Homo sapiens: one gene and its partners. The protein of the gene in region 4 purifies or fractionates together with the protein of the main gene of each other region. This does not show direct contact. Each region holds a gene or a part of one and is shown on either strand. Other genes may lie near its edges.

Evidence for each region.
Region 1: the proteins of SLC37A1 (region 4) and TMEM59 purify together in Homo sapiens (affinity purification with mass spectrometry; one large-scale study listed by BioGRID and IntAct). This does not show direct contact.
Region 2: the proteins of SLC37A1 (region 4) and ACBD3 purify together in Homo sapiens (affinity purification with mass spectrometry; one large-scale study listed by BioGRID and IntAct). This does not show direct contact.
Region 3: the proteins of SLC37A1 (region 4) and WRNIP1 purify together in Homo sapiens (affinity purification with mass spectrometry; one large-scale study listed by BioGRID and IntAct). This does not show direct contact.

What each region holds. Positions count from the first base shown.
Region 1 is NC_000001.11:54,043,205-54,046,704, forward strand, and holds part of TMEM59 (transmembrane protein 59 isoform 2 precursor), read right to left. Parts: intron 2,583-3,500; coding exon 2,488-2,582; coding exon of another isoform or gene 2,440-2,487; exon of another isoform or gene 2,279-2,439; intron 322-2,278; coding exon 169-321; intron 1-168.
Region 2 is NC_000001.11:226,155,742-226,159,241, reverse strand, and holds part of ACBD3 (Golgi resident protein GCP60), read left to right. Parts: coding exon 1-58; intron 59-3,500. UniProt on the Homo sapiens protein: Involved in the maintenance of Golgi structure by interacting with giantin, affecting protein transport between the endoplasmic reticulum and Golgi. Involved in hormone-induced steroid biosynthesis in testicular Leydig cells.
Region 3 is NC_000006.12:2,782,393-2,784,922, reverse strand, and holds part of WRNIP1 (ATPase WRNIP1), read right to left. Parts: intron 1,518-2,530; coding exon 1,362-1,517; intron 600-1,361; coding exon 520-599; intron 1-519. UniProt on the Homo sapiens protein: Functions as a modulator of initiation or reinitiation events during DNA polymerase delta-mediated DNA synthesis. In the presence of ATP, stimulation of DNA polymerase delta-mediated DNA synthesis is decreased.
Region 4 is NC_000021.9:42,575,707-42,580,928, reverse strand, and holds part of SLC37A1 (glucose-6-phosphate exchanger SLC37A1), read right to left. Parts: intron 5,163-5,222; coding exon of another isoform or gene 5,043-5,162; exon of another isoform or gene 4,973-5,042; intron 1,459-4,972; coding exon of another isoform or gene 1,194-1,458; coding exon 1,129-1,193; intron 585-1,128; coding exon 569-584; 3' UTR 1-568. UniProt on the Homo sapiens protein: Inorganic phosphate and glucose-6-phosphate antiporter. May transport cytoplasmic glucose-6-phosphate into the lumen of the endoplasmic reticulum and translocate inorganic phosphate into the opposite direction. Independent of a lumenal glucose-6-phosphatase.

The sequences.
Region 1 (3,500 bases), on a different chromosome or scaffold from region 4:
TAATAAAACTGATGTCTAATATTTTAATGTAGGGCCAAATAAGTAATTATTATTTGATGATAAATATTTGTAAGTGACTGAGTATGGTTCTATGCTGAAACACTCATTTAAGACATATACATTTACTGTTGTTAGTATTTAGATGAATCCATGAAGCTCAGTTGTCACCTGGAATATAACTATTTTTCCGTCATCGGCTTGAAGATAAAAAGTCCATGAAGAGGTTATGAAGCTCTGTGCGGAGTCCATCATGTCACTCCAGAATGACCTCACCAGAGTTAGAGGAAAGAGTAGGTGCATTTTTGGCATCAGGGACATAAGCTAAAAATAAAATAAATAATGAGAAATATATTATTTTTATATATGTATATTCAAAAGAACAATATAATCAAGATTACTCCAATCCTTATTGGGACAGGATACAAACAATTAAATACATCTACCATAATCAATAGCATTAGAGTAAACTCTTAGTTATCTATGCACATTATGGTAAAGCTTAAAAACCAAGGATACTTTAATTTGCCACCAAACACACTTACTAGCTACCTGTCACCTCTATCAGAATAACAGGCTTTTGAATTAAGTCCAAAAATAAGAAGACTCTTAAGATGTAATTAAATAAGGACCAGCAAGGCCTTAAGGGTAGAACGGGAAGGGACAAATCGTATCATTCTCATCTTTAATGCTTTCATCAAGAATAAATCATGCTATAATGAACATCAATGGAAAAGAGAACGGAAAAAATCAATCAGAAGAATATATACATAAAATGGTAGACATCTGACAACACGACAGGGTGAAGGGAGTATTTATGGGCTGAATATATGTAGTAAGCTACTGATAAGATTTTAATGGCCCAGCGTGGTGGCTCACACCGGTAATCCCAGCACTTTGGGAGGCTGAGGCGGGTGGATCACGAGGTCAAGAGATGGAGACCATCCTGGGCAACATGGTGAAACCCGATCTCTACTAAAAATACACAAAAATTAGCTAGGCGTGGTGGCGCACGCCTGTAGTCCCAGCTACTCAGGAGGCTGAGGCAGGAGAATCCCTTAAGCCAGGGAGGCAGAGGTTGCCGTGAGCCAAGATCATGCCACTGCACTCCAGCCTGGCGACAGAGCGAGACTCCATCACAAAAAAAAAAAAAAAAAAAGGATTTTGACAAATGATATCATCTTTCCTCCAATTCTGATTTCTTGACTTCTTTAGCAGCACTGGGCCTCTCTAAAGCACAAGTGTGGGATGCCATTTACTAAACTCTAGGGATAGCTTTGGTTCTGCTTTGTTTCTTTTTTCATCTGTTTTTTTTTTTTTTTTTTGAGACAGTGTCTCGCTCTGTCACCCAGGCTGGAGTGCAGTGGTATCTATGGTAGCACTTGGGCCCAGAAGCTTGAGGCCAGCCTGGGTAATATAGTGAGATCCTCATCTCTAAAAAACATAAAAATAAAAAATGCATATACCTCTTAACTCAGCAATTCTAGCCCTATGATTTTATTCTACAGGTATACTCACAAATGTGCAAAATAGGTATCATTTACAAAAGAAAAAGATTAGGAACAACCTACATGTTCACAAATAAGGGACTGCCTAAAAAATTATAATATATCTACACAGAATATTATGTAGTAGAAAAAAATTAGTAGAAGCTCTTTATGTATACTTATATTTACAAAATATATGTGTACATCCTTGTATACGCATAACATATCTATGCATTAGTAACCTTGGCTACATTCAAGAGGGAAAACTGAGTGGCTAAGAGACAGGAGTGGGAGACTTTTCACTATATGTATACTCTTTTTATCTTTTGAGTTTGTACATGTGACTATTTCCTGTGCAAAAATCAATAAAATTAAGAAACTTTTCCCAGTATGTCTGGAGAATAGAGTATGAAATTCCCTTGTCAGGAATTTTAAGAGATGGCATTGGAGCAGTAATCAGGAGTAGGTTGTGATAAACAGTTTGGACTTAAATCTATATGTAATTGGGAGCTACTGATTATATAAGACAGGAGAATGGCATGATGAAATTTAGAAAAAAAAATCTGGACACAGCAAAGGATGGAGTTAGACAGGGTTAAATTAGAAAAACAGTTTGGAAGTTAATTTAAAAATACAGACAAGAAATGATTATCTGAGTTAAGGCAATGGCAACTGTCCAATGGGAGTTGGGATGGAGAAAAAGAACTCTGAAATAATTCCTCTGAGCCTTGGTTTTTTCATATGTAAAATGAGGATAATATCTTCACTGGAATGTGAGAAGAAACAAAATAAGATTATGAACGTAAGCATAACTTTTAATAGTAAAGCATTATACAAAAGCAATTATTCAACTGACTTTTCTATTTGCAAACTAATTTTGTTTGCTGAAAGCCAAATATAAAATATAACACTAAAATAGGATCAAGTGGGTGATAAACACTTCAAGCAATACAAGTCAGTGCCATCTAAGCAGGCTAGTTTGAAAGGCAGTATTGTTTCGTACTTGTTCTTGTCTCAGTTCAGCGAATGGCAGCTGATTCTGGCAACCAAGATGGCAAGCATATTGCTCATCAGATTGGGAATATGCTTCTGTACATGCTGTAAGAGAAAAATAGTCAAATTACAAGAAACAAAAGAGAAAGGGAAAGAGGAAAGAAAAGGATTTGGCATTTTATTAAAAAAATTTTTATACTTAAAAAGGTTTCATCAATGTGAATTTCCAAATTTGGTAATATAGTAGTAGGAAATGTATCTTTAACAGAACTCCATATTGTCTCCCTCCTACAAGTCAAATGTTTTAGATACAAATCTATTAATTATACACCCAGGCTCTGGCCACATGATGACATTCATATAAGAGGATCCTTGTGTGGTGGAAAATGCACTGGATTGGCATCCTGAAGATGCCACTCAAAAAGGTTTAGTTCCATCATTTGTTGGTGTGTGTGACCTGAGCTGAGCAGTTTAACCTCTGACTATTGATTTCTATATGTGTAAAATAGAAATACCACAACCTATTGTATAGGGTTGAATGAAATAATATATTTTAATGATTTATACAAATATAAGGTATTATTGTTAAGAACCAGATCACTCAGTTAAGAAGTAAGGGTATGCACATGGCAAAAGAAAAATAAAACAATCAGCCTAACATCTGAAAGTCTAAGAAAATTGAACTAGAAAATGTTCTACAGCAGATAATTCTAATGTTGAAATGGGTCTCTACCAGATATACTCTCATTTAGTTCATTAAATCCATTTCCTTCTTGTGATATAACATTTTACCACTATCCTAATTTTATTTTTTCCCAACTCAGTAATGCATTTGTAATACACTTCTCAGAAGTGCTAGATAATAAACTGGACAGCATTATGCATATATAAAGATGATCAGTTAGGAGACTAAGCCGCAAAAATACGGTTATGATATCAAAGAAGACTGTATGTGAGCCATGGCATAGTGATAGGGGAAAAGGTGCCTCCTTCTACACTAATAAACAGTGTAACGAGTGGAGA
Region 2 (3,500 bases), on a different chromosome or scaffold from region 4:
GCAACACTATCAGCAGTACATGCAGCAGTTGTATCAAGTCCAGCTTGCACAGCAACAGGTACGATAGACAACCCTAGAATTCAGCCTTAGAGAGAGTTTTTAGTTTCATTGGAACCCAAGTTCTTTTTTAACAGTCGCAAATGAATTTTGCATTAGTTAGCCTCTAAGGTGTAAAGTAACTTTTGGGTGATCTTTTAGGCAGACTTGAGAATTGCACAGGCAATTGTGAGAGAAAATATGTGTTATCGAAGCAACCGATGATGTTATATTGTCATAAGGGTATTTGGGAGTTGTATGGGTTGAGTGTCTTTACTGTGAGTCTGGCATAGACCCTAATAGTGGTCCTGGAACATGAGGACCTGAGTAACTAGCCATAGTTCAGAGATGTCCTTCAGGCAGTGCATTGTCAGAGGCTTGGACAGCCTCCAGTGGGAGGACTCCCCTGCCCTAAGACCATGGGCTGGTTCTGCAGAGCTAGATTGGGTCCATTTGACTTTGTGTTAGGCACCATAGTTAGGCAGTGCTCATAACAGCACATTGCTATTCCTCCTCCAACTGCCTGCCCCCAAGTATTTTGCTTCCACATAGGAGAGGTTGGTTTAGGTGAAAGAACATGGGACTGGGAGTCTCATAACACTTGGATTCTCTTTGGGCTTTGACATTACCTTGTTTGATCTCAGACAAGTTATTACTGCTCTGATTGTTCTGCTCTTTCTTTCAGTCCGTAACAATAGGATATAAAATCAAAGCACCTGTCCTGTTAACCTCACAGGACTATCAGAGGAGTCAAATGAGAAAAGAGTTACCCTGTGAACGATTTTTGTACTTGTAGAAGACACTAATTTTACATTCATTTTTTACATCTTGTGCAGGCATAAAATACCTCCTTAAACTTAACGTAGCTTAGTTTAACTTACTTAATTTTCACTTATAAAGCAGTTACCACCTGTCAAAAAATCTGAGTGAAGAAAAGTGTTACATTATAGTTGCTCAGCATTTCTTACTGCATGAAATAATCTTTGTTGTTTTTGCCAAACTCTTTAAATTCCTTGAAAATGTGTATTCTTACTAAACAACCTTTTCTCCTGAGTCTTTGGCATCAGTTAGAAGTTAAAAAGCACTGCAAGTTTTTTGTAATCCTGAAGAGGAGGAAAAGATGCCAAACCAGAGTTTATTCAAGATAATAAGTGGTATTTTTGAGAGATTTATTCTCTCTCCTCTGAAGCCTGTTTCTACTTTAGTTTCACTTCCATTTTCCTGCTTCTTTGATAGGCAGTGAGATGATTTTTAATAGCACATACACTCTGTCCTGTTTATAGGTTGCTATCATTTAATGAGAAGAAAGTCAAATAGGACAAAACCGCAAATCTTTGAAACAAAACTAGAAAGCCATAATGGAGGCTGGGCATAGTGGCTCATGCCTTTAATCCCAGCACCTGGGGAAGCCAAGGCCATAATGGTTGCTTGAGGCCAGGAATTTGAGACCAGCCTGGGCAACATAGGGAGACCCCATCTCTTAAAAAAGAAAAAAAAAATTAGCTGGGCATGGTGGTGCACGCCTGTAGTCCCAGTTACTTGGGAGGCTGAGGCGAGAGGATCACTCGAGCTCAGGAGTTTGAGGCTATAGTGAGCTGTGATGGCGCCACTACATTCCAGCCTGGGTGACAGAGTGAGACCCTGTCTCGAGGAAAAAAAAAGCCATAGGCCAGGTGTGGTGGCACATGCCTGTAATCCCAGCACTTTGGGAGGCTGAGGTGGGTGGATCACTTGAGGTTGGGAGTTCGAGAACAGCCTGACCAATATGGAGAAACCCCATCTCTATTAAAAATACAAAATTAGCCTGGCATGTTGGTACACATCTGTAATCTCAGCTACTCGTGAGGCTGAAGCAGGAGAATCACTTGAACCCAGGAGGGGGAGGTTTCGGTGAGCCAAGATTGTGCCATTGCACTCCAGCCTGGGCAACAAAAGAGAAACTCCGTCTCAAAAAAAAAAAAAATCCATAATTGAGATTAGAGTGATCAAACTCAGTTTATCAAATTTATTGGTTGCTTCTGAGAAGAGAAAAGGAAAGAGACTGGGGAAGGAACAAAGGGAACTTTACTCCTATAAAATATTAATTTTTATATAAATAGCAAAATGAACACATTTGTTAATTTTGGGGTGTAGATACATTTGTGGGTGTTTGATACGTTGCTTTTATACCTTTCTGTGCTTTTTTAAACTTCCTAATAACAGGAAGAGAGTATGGAAATATATCATTACAATCTATTACATGTAGTACAATAGATTCATGGTCGGGGGTTCCCAGAGAAAGTTGTTTTTCTGCTAGAGCCTTTCAAGAAAGGATTAGTGGAGATGAGGGACCATTTGAGCTGGGCCTATTGATCATCAAAAATGCTCTTTTGCTTTCCTGTCATGCAGTGAATGTTCTGAGTGTGCTGACTTGTTTTGATTTTAGGTACTTTCTCTGGAAGCTAGTATCCCTTCTAGAAAATTGATGTGGAAATTACTGAAAATCCAGACCTTGGAAGAAGATATCTTAAAATCTTAATTGTGTTATTAACCTATATTAGCAGCAAAGAGAAGCATTGCTATTCATTTAAGTAATTGGCTTGTAAATGATACATTCAATGAAATGTGTGTAGAGATATGCCAAAATATATCATTATCCCTACCCCATGGGATCATAAAGGCTTTTTCCGTGTGTGTGTGTATGTGTGCGTGTGTGTATTTTTTTTCCTGCAGTGAACATATACGTACTTGCTTATTTGTGACAGTGTTTTAGTTTAAAACATTGCTTACATGCCCAAATGCTCATCAACAGTAGAATGGATAGATTTTATCTTTTTATGATGGAATAACTTAAAAGTAATGCAAACAACAAAATACAATTACTTGTGACTCTATAGATGTAGCTTATAAAAGTAATGTTGAGTGAAGGTAGCCAGACATAAAAAAGAATGTATACTATACAACCCATTTCTTTAAAGTTTTAAAATAGGCAAAGCAAATCTATAGTGTTATAAGTCAAATAGTTGTTACCCTTCAGGGCAGGTGCCCAGAAAGGGGTACCAGGGAATATTCTGGATGCAGATACTGTCTTGATCTGAGTATTAGTTACATGGATGTGTTTGATTTATGAAAATTGATCAAGCTGTGTAATTTATCATTTGTACACTTTCTACATGTATGTTGTAATTCAATTTATAGTTCCCCACCAAAGTTACCTAAGTAATACTCAGATATTTGAAGTAGTATCTGTCCATATTGATTTAGAAGAGGAATGTCCCAAAATAGTCCTTTGGATTTAAGATGTTTTTACTGCCATTTTGACTCAGAGGACATTTTGATTTTATATTTATGAATACACATTTCAATCATAACTATATAAACAGTGACAAATTTTCATTGAGAAAATATTTTTAACCTCAAATTGCATCCTGTAAGTCTGTTTGATTCTTAGGTCAGCATTTTACAACACGATTAACAATTTTCAA
Region 3 (2,530 bases), on a different chromosome or scaffold from region 4:
TAATTCTGAGAAGATCCCCACATGCTTTTATTATCCCCCTTTTGCGCCTACAGTCTGGATAACCACCTACGACAGACAGAAGAAATTCTCATGAGGTGAAACGAGAGGCAAACCAGGTGAGTGGTTTTCATTTTTTTTTTTAACTGAAGGACTTTTTACTACATTAAATTTTTCTTAAGCCCCCAATATATAAAAGAGATGAATATGAAGCTGCTCTGGGGGCGAACTTGCAGAGGCTTTGCTGTTCAGCTCCTTTAACCTTTCTGCTCCCTGGAACATATGGAGCATGTGCTCTGAACCCCGGAATCCCGAGAACAGTTTGAAACATGACCTCGTTGACACAGAAGGTTTCCCTCTCTAGGAGTCTAAGAGTCTACAATTGGAATTCCAAAGCCAAGCAGCATACTCAGTGGGTCCAATACACCAATGGTGAAGGAGGGACATTTATTCAAATCTACAAAGGGACAGAGCACGAGAGAGAAAAGAAGTGATTTGCAAGAAATGAGCTGATTACTTTACCTCACATTCAGGCATGCCTATAAAATGACAGCCTTGGTAGGCAGCAACCGCTTGTGTTAACGCAGACGGGTCTGCCAGACCTGCCACACACAGAGACAAAGGAGAGTTTCAGTCATGACACACACTGTCCTCCTGGCCTATGTGCAGGCGACCACAGACCACCACTGCTTGTACACTTGGTGACCAAAACAATCCCATGTAGCAAAACAGCCTGACTTAGCTCTAGTCTCTGATCCCATGAACTTATGCAAGAAATATTGAGAGTGGTTACTGTGTGGTGTTAAGAACTGTTTCCTTGTGGATAAAAACTCTGCATCTAGAAAAACATGAGTCTCTGTATAACAAACATAAGAAGTGAAGGCTATGGAGACATTCACCAGGATGGAAACACTAAAAACAAAACATCCCCTAAGACCAAAGAAGAGGAGAGCTTTCCTGATCTTTTTCTTCATATAGTGTCTAGAGTCTTCCATTTCTACCTTGGGAGCTGTCCAAAGAAAACCTTGAACACCTGACTTAAAGCAAATTTAAAAGCAGCTCATCTATTGCAATACTCTGAATAGCCACTCATGTTAGTAAAAACATTCCCGAAGAGGAAACAGAAAATGGTGACTTTATGAACATAAACATTCAAAAGCACATACACCAGGAAATAAACGACTGAGCTCAGGCATAAAGTCTTATCTTCTCCTGCCAGTCTCACATAGCCCTGAGACATTCTTCCTGCTACCCCCGCCCACCCCGCCCTGCAAAAAAAAAAAAAAAAAAAGCCACGATGTAACTGTTAGCCATTTCCCCACCCTCATGGACATAGGACTCCGGGACCCTCCCATCACACTCACCTATGTCCTCGCTGGCAAACCTGACAAGCCTCCGTGCCACGTAGAGTGGGTCCTCTCCTCCCTCGAGCATGCGAGCCAGCCAGTAGAGGGAGGCGTTCTGGTCTGAGCCCCGCATGGACTTGTGCAGGGCGGAGATGCAGTTGTAATGCTCCTCACCTGACATCACAAAGAGCACCACTCACACAGAGCTCACAGGAGGGGCGCCCAAGCCATCTTCACCTCCGCCAGCTGACTTCCAGAAAGCCTGAACGAATAAAGGCCCTGAGAAAGCCGAGGAGAGGTTTGGGCAGCTGCCTTAACCGTGCTCTGAGTGGGGTGCACCAGCTGCTGGGGCTTAATCCCAGTCCTATTCAGGGGAAGAGGCTGCTGCAGCAGAAACCTGTGGCTGTCGACATGGAGTGCACGCACACGCACAGAGGCAGGAGGGAGGAAAGGTGGTCCTCCCAGCTGGTGGATTTGCCAGAGACAAGAGTGGAGGGGGACGAGTCTTCTGTTCTGGCTCTATCCCGTGGCCCACCATCTACTGGAGGAAAAGCAACGGTGGGCCTGCTCGGAGCCAGGAGGATGTAGAGCCAAGTGGCAAGGGCAGCTGTTATAGCCCATCTGTTCCTCAGTGTCATTTCCAGCTGCCTTTCTGATATCCGAAGCCTGTGGTCATTTAAACCTCCTTCTGCCAGCCTTGGTGTGGGGACACCTGTGTGGCAGGGTCCCAGAAGGACCGACACGTGGACTAACCAGCTTCCGCCCTGAAGTGGACGGAAGCCCACTCTCTCACCGCCTGGTCTTACTACTCCATTTTTACCCTAGATTCACATGAAATCAGTGAAATGTGCTTTAAAAAAAGGCATATTTAAGGGCAAAAAAATGACAGCTAAACAGTTCTCAGGAACTAAGCAGTGGCACCTGCATACATTTCACTATTCTCTGGCCATCGTCCCTTAGGTAAGTTCAAGGAGGGGGCACCCTCCTCACGAGAAAGCGGAGGATGGTGTTCCCGTGAGTCTCACTCCTCCCAGAGGAGCACCTGGTCTGTGCTCAGCATAAGCCCATGTCCACAATACGACTGGCGCCAGCCACAAACCCTGGCAGCTGAGCTCGCTGGTAAGATGACAGTTGGTCTTCAGGTGGAGAAGAGAGCAAGCGAAGATGCTGGCCTCCCACAGGGGAAA
Region 4 (5,222 bases):
CTGGGGCGATGTGGTGGGTCTGAGCTCCGTCTTGGTTTCCAACCTGGTTGTCGGCCTTCTTGATGTTGTGTGGCGCTGGCTCTCTGCTTCTCTGCTGGCCGGCACTGTCTGGTGGGCTCTGGTGTCCTGTTTTTCCATGTGGCACATACAGGTTCTCTGAAGCCACAGCCAGCGCAGTACTCGCTCACTTTGATGTTCTGTGGCTGGAATGCCTGAGAGGGTCGGGGCTACCTGTGCACCCCCCCCACCCTCCCGGCCTTGTTGTCACGCGTGCATTTGGGTGGCTGCATGGGCACACGCCTGTGAGGCCAGGGCCGGCCGGGTCTTCGGTTCTCTGGCTTGGCTCAGGCAGCAGTTCCTGCAGACTTTTCTCACTGCTGTTCAGCAATATGTCTCCTTTAAAATAGCACCAGGGGTTCTCAGGTTGGCTTCTGTGTCTTTTCCAGGTGCGTGTGCAAAAGGCAAAGGGAGGTCACTCTTTCCATGCAGGGCCCTTTGTCTGAACTGTCCTTGAAAGGCAGTTGTGAAGGGTGGGCCCAGACCCCCTCCACGGGACTGGGGTGGGGTGTCACTGTTCCTTAAATCTGAAAGAAAGGTTGAAAGAAGAGCTGCTCTAACAGCCAGCAGTGGCTCAGCAAGAGATGCTGAACTTCACACACCATGTGCAAATCCTATGGGGAGCCAGCTGCCCTCCCGGCCCAGCAGGGATTCCTCTCCTGCAGGGGTGCTGGATGCTGGATAAACCCTTGCACCTTTCCCGCAGCCTTCTGGGGGCCAGGAAGAAGTGAGAAGGGAGCGAGGGAGGACCAAGGGGGGAGGGAAAAGAGGAGGGAGGGAGAAGGGGGCGAGCAGGAAGGCAAGGAGAGCTCGGGGGGCTGCAGCTCCAACAGAATGCCAAAGACGGCAATTCCCTCACATTTTCCACTCAGGGTTTGAGGAGAGATTACCACTAACCCATCCAGAGGTATTTATTAGAAAAGAAAAAGTGAGAGTGAAGGTGGCGTGCCGTGAAAAGATAAGCCACGCGTTTTCTTTCTTTCAGGAAAGCCAGGTGCAGAAGGCAGATAGGACAGAAGGCACTTTGGAGCCGGCTTTCACGCACGGAGACAGGGCCCGAGTGGGACTTACGGAACTTGGTCCCCCGTAGCTGACCCTGGGCAGCTCAGCTCCTTGTGTATGAGGCGGATCAGGAACTGCACCAAAACAAAGGTGAGCCCACCTGTTACTGGAGCAGGCACAGGGCGGCCCGCGCCGTGGGCACCATGAGGACCTGGCCCGCAAGGCCTGGGCGGGTGGCTCTCTCCCCACAGCACCTTCCCTGGGGTGGCCTCCCTGCAAGAGCAGCGGGGCTTGCATGCTCAGCCGGAGGCCTGGGCTCCTGTGGGCAGGGCTGTCTGATGAGGGCAGGGCTGTCTGATGAAGGCCCACGAAGAACCAGGAGCTGCCCTGAAAACAAGGCTTTTGGGAGAGATGCAGCCTGAACTACTTCTGGGTTCAAGTCACGTTTAGACTAAAATTAATCCAATCATGAAATGTCCACAGTGGGAAAAAGGAAATAAAGACAAGAGGACCATAATGCGGGTGGCCCAGTGGGTGGACCTGCGAGCTTCTCAGGTGACTCTAAAGCCAGGTGAGCACTTCCTCTGGCGCCAGCCCTGGGGTCTGAAGAGGCTGTCACAGGACAGCCGCACCCCACTGGGAGCCCCTTGGAGGCCAGGCCTGGCCGGGGCCCAGGGCTTTCCACCAACATCACTGCCTCAGCCTTGGCTCCTCGCCGGACCCAGAGCTTTAACTCCGTGCCCTTCACATGTTTGAGGGCTCAACGCCAGCCTACAAATCCAGACAAATGATTGTGCTACCTCCAATTTAACTAGTGCATTTTCCAGTGTGGATCCAGTCTCTCCCCAAGTGGGACATCAGCCCACAGGAGGGCTCTCCCTGGACGTGGCCCCTCGTTCTTAGAGGGCAGCAGATGCCCTCAGACCCAGGGTGGATCACTGGTCCAGGGGAGGCAGGGAAGGGGTGCTGGAGGGTCTCGAGGGGCTACTTAAAAACCAAACACATGGCCCCACCACCAAGCCTCAGGCCAGAGCTCTAGAAGGCAGAAACTCTTCTATTTTCTTAGGTGCTTGTGGTTCAAGTAGGAGCTTAGGAGTCCCTTGTATGAGGTGAGTTCAAGCTGGAGAGAACAGGGGCCCCTCCTACAGATAAGATGCATCCAGCTGCTCTGCTTGGTGCATGAAAGGTGTTTGCGACAATTAGGTGGTAAAGGTCGTGGGAACACGGCAGGTACGAACAATAGTGCTGGTGACAATAGCAAGATTTTTGTTAAATAAATCCATCTGTGTGAATCTGAACCTCTAGCTCCAACTACCGGCACAGGCTTATTGTGTTTGAGCTGGTACCTTACCCACATCTACATCCTGCCAAGTGTGATGTATGAAAAGTGCTAGCCCGAAGAGGCCTATGATTATGAAAAGCTGATCATTAAGAGAGAAAAAGATGAAGAATATAGTAGCAAGTGTTATCTGTGGGTACGGGATGAACTGTAAATGGTGACAGTTCTGAAGAACAGAGATCCAATTTCAAAACATGCCCACGTGTTTGGCTCACGCATGCAAGAATGACCAACAAGGAGGGGCCCTACCAACTCCAGGAGCCCAGGCGACACGCACTGGAGACCTGAGGCCTTCGGTCGTGCGCCAGGCAGTCCTGCAGGCCCTGGAGCTGGCCATCAGTGTGTGTTGTGAGGCAGGAAGCATGGTGCCCTCTGGCCCCCCAGGACACCTGCTCAGATCATGGAGGTTCTCAGCTCCAGACTCGGGAGGAAACACTTGTCTATTTTGGTGAAAAGATACCAAAAAGCATGTTGATCAGTGAAGAGAAAAAGGTATGTCTAGTTCTTAGGTTTGAAAAGCCCAACTCAAGCTCACGGACCTGCTGCACATCCTGGTATAGTTCCTTCTCCACTGCGACAAGCCCCCGTCTCCCAAGTGCTTCAGCTTTAGGTCTCTTTCTTCCAACGCAGCAAATCCGGCTTCCTCTGGTTATTATTTACCTGTCGTGTAGTTTCCCATTCTTTTACTTTTGTCTTTTCGGAATTCCAGTGTAGCAGGTGTGTTTCTTGTAAATAACCAGTGCCTGTATTTTTAAAAGCAACCTGACAATCTCTGCTCCTAACTGATGAGTTTAAGTCCATTTATTGTCACTGTGTTGCTGGCATGCTGGGATCATTTTCATCCATGTTGCTCTGTATTTCTGTATTTACCCTGTTTTTTTCTATGCTTCCCCTGACCCTAGGTTCTCTTAGATTAAGTCTTCATTTCCCTGTATTGCCTTGAAGGTTACACATTCTATTGCTATTGGCTTGACAACATAAGAACTGCAGTGTACTGGAACTCTCATTGTCCCACTTGTACCTTACATTTTCAGTATTTCAGTTCTTTTTTATATTGCCCAAATTAGTCATTATTGCTGTTGTTTTAAACTGAGAGTCAGAAAGCTTTTTCTGTAAAGGTCTAGATAGTAAATATTTCAGGCTTTGCAGCCATATGGTTTCTGTTGCACATTCTTTTGTTGATTTTTTAAAGACATATTTAAAAATATAAACCATTCCCAGCTGGAGGATCACACAAAAATAGGCCACAGTTAGCTGGCCCCTATTTTATATGGTCAATACTCCTTTAGATTCATCCTTAGGAATATCACTTTTTTTTTGCTTGCATTTCTCCTTGCATCTCAGACTTTCCTTCTGGATCTATCTTCCTTCTCTAAATACATTGTTTAGCAATTTTTGCTGGGAGCATCTTTGGTTAAAAATGTTTTCACTTCACCCTTACTCTTGTGTGCAAGTTTATCTAGGTACAGAATTCTAAGTCATTTGATTCCTGAATCTAAGAATGTTTGTCTTTCATGTATCTGGAAAATTCTCAGCTATTTTGTCTTAAAATATTGCTTCAAATCCAGTCTATCATCTTCCTCTGGAATTACTTTCAGATAACTTTAGGCCATCTCATTTGGTCCTCCATTTTATATTTAATTTCTCTCTAATATTTTCCATCTCTCTTTTTGTGCTGAATTCTGGATAATTTCTTCATATCTATATTTCACTTCAGTAATCTTCTCTTCAGCGGTATCTAATTTGCTTTTCTAACCCATCCATTGAGTCTTTTTCCAGGCTAAAGATCACATTTTTCATTTCTATAACTCCTGTTTGGTTGTTTTTGAAGCCTGCTCTGTCTTTTCAATAGTGTCTTGTTCTTTTTTTCATGAGGTCAGTTCCTTTTTCTTATGTCATTAGTAACATTGCATATATTTATTTTTAGTTTACATAACTCTTTTATCTGCAGTTTTGGGGGAGTCCAATTCCACCATTTTTTATGTCTGTTACTGTCATTCAATGTGGATTGCTTCCTTATGTTTCATTATTTTGGATTGTGAGCTCATCTTTTGTAGGGTGTTAGCTACAGAAATCCTATGCTGCAGGGTTGAGATTTGTCCCTATTTGCTTCTGTATTACTGCCTAAGGACCAACTTTGCTCATTTAAAATATATTTATATAAGCTCAAAGATTAAAGCTGACTGTGGGGAGGTCTATGGCTAAAAATTTTCAAGGGAGATTTCTTCCCCCTAATCTGGCTAAGATGGGCAGATTCCCATTGTCTTCCTGTGCCAGTGTGCAGATATCATCTAGTATACTCTTTCACTGCAAGCATGGCTCTTCGAGGGTCCTGGCTCTATGACGAAGTCTCCAGTTCCAAATCTTCATCTTGTGCCAGCCTAACGCCTTGTCTCTTACCCAGTGTGGGCACAACCACCCCAACCCGTTGATTCCTGAGCTTGTGTATTTATATTGCCTTTACAATTCTGGCTCCTGGGGAGTTCCTTTACTTTCTTATGAGTTTGGCTAAGCATCAAAACAATTTTCAATATATATTACCAGATAGTTCTAAAGAAGATATTTCAGATTCTCTGAACAGTTGTAATGACAGGAATTTTACTGCTACTTAGTGGAAATCCATCTGGAGGCTTCATTAGAACATTCAGGCATTAAAAGAACCCACAGATGATCCAAAGAACAGCCATTTAAACCTAGTAAGTTCATAGGTTGAGAGTCGGTATTTGATTTTGTATGTGGTGGGGAAGTTGAGTTTTAGAATTTCCTGGAATTAAAATATAAGACTTTCATTTAATTGAGTGAGTTGATATTTCTGAAATTCTCA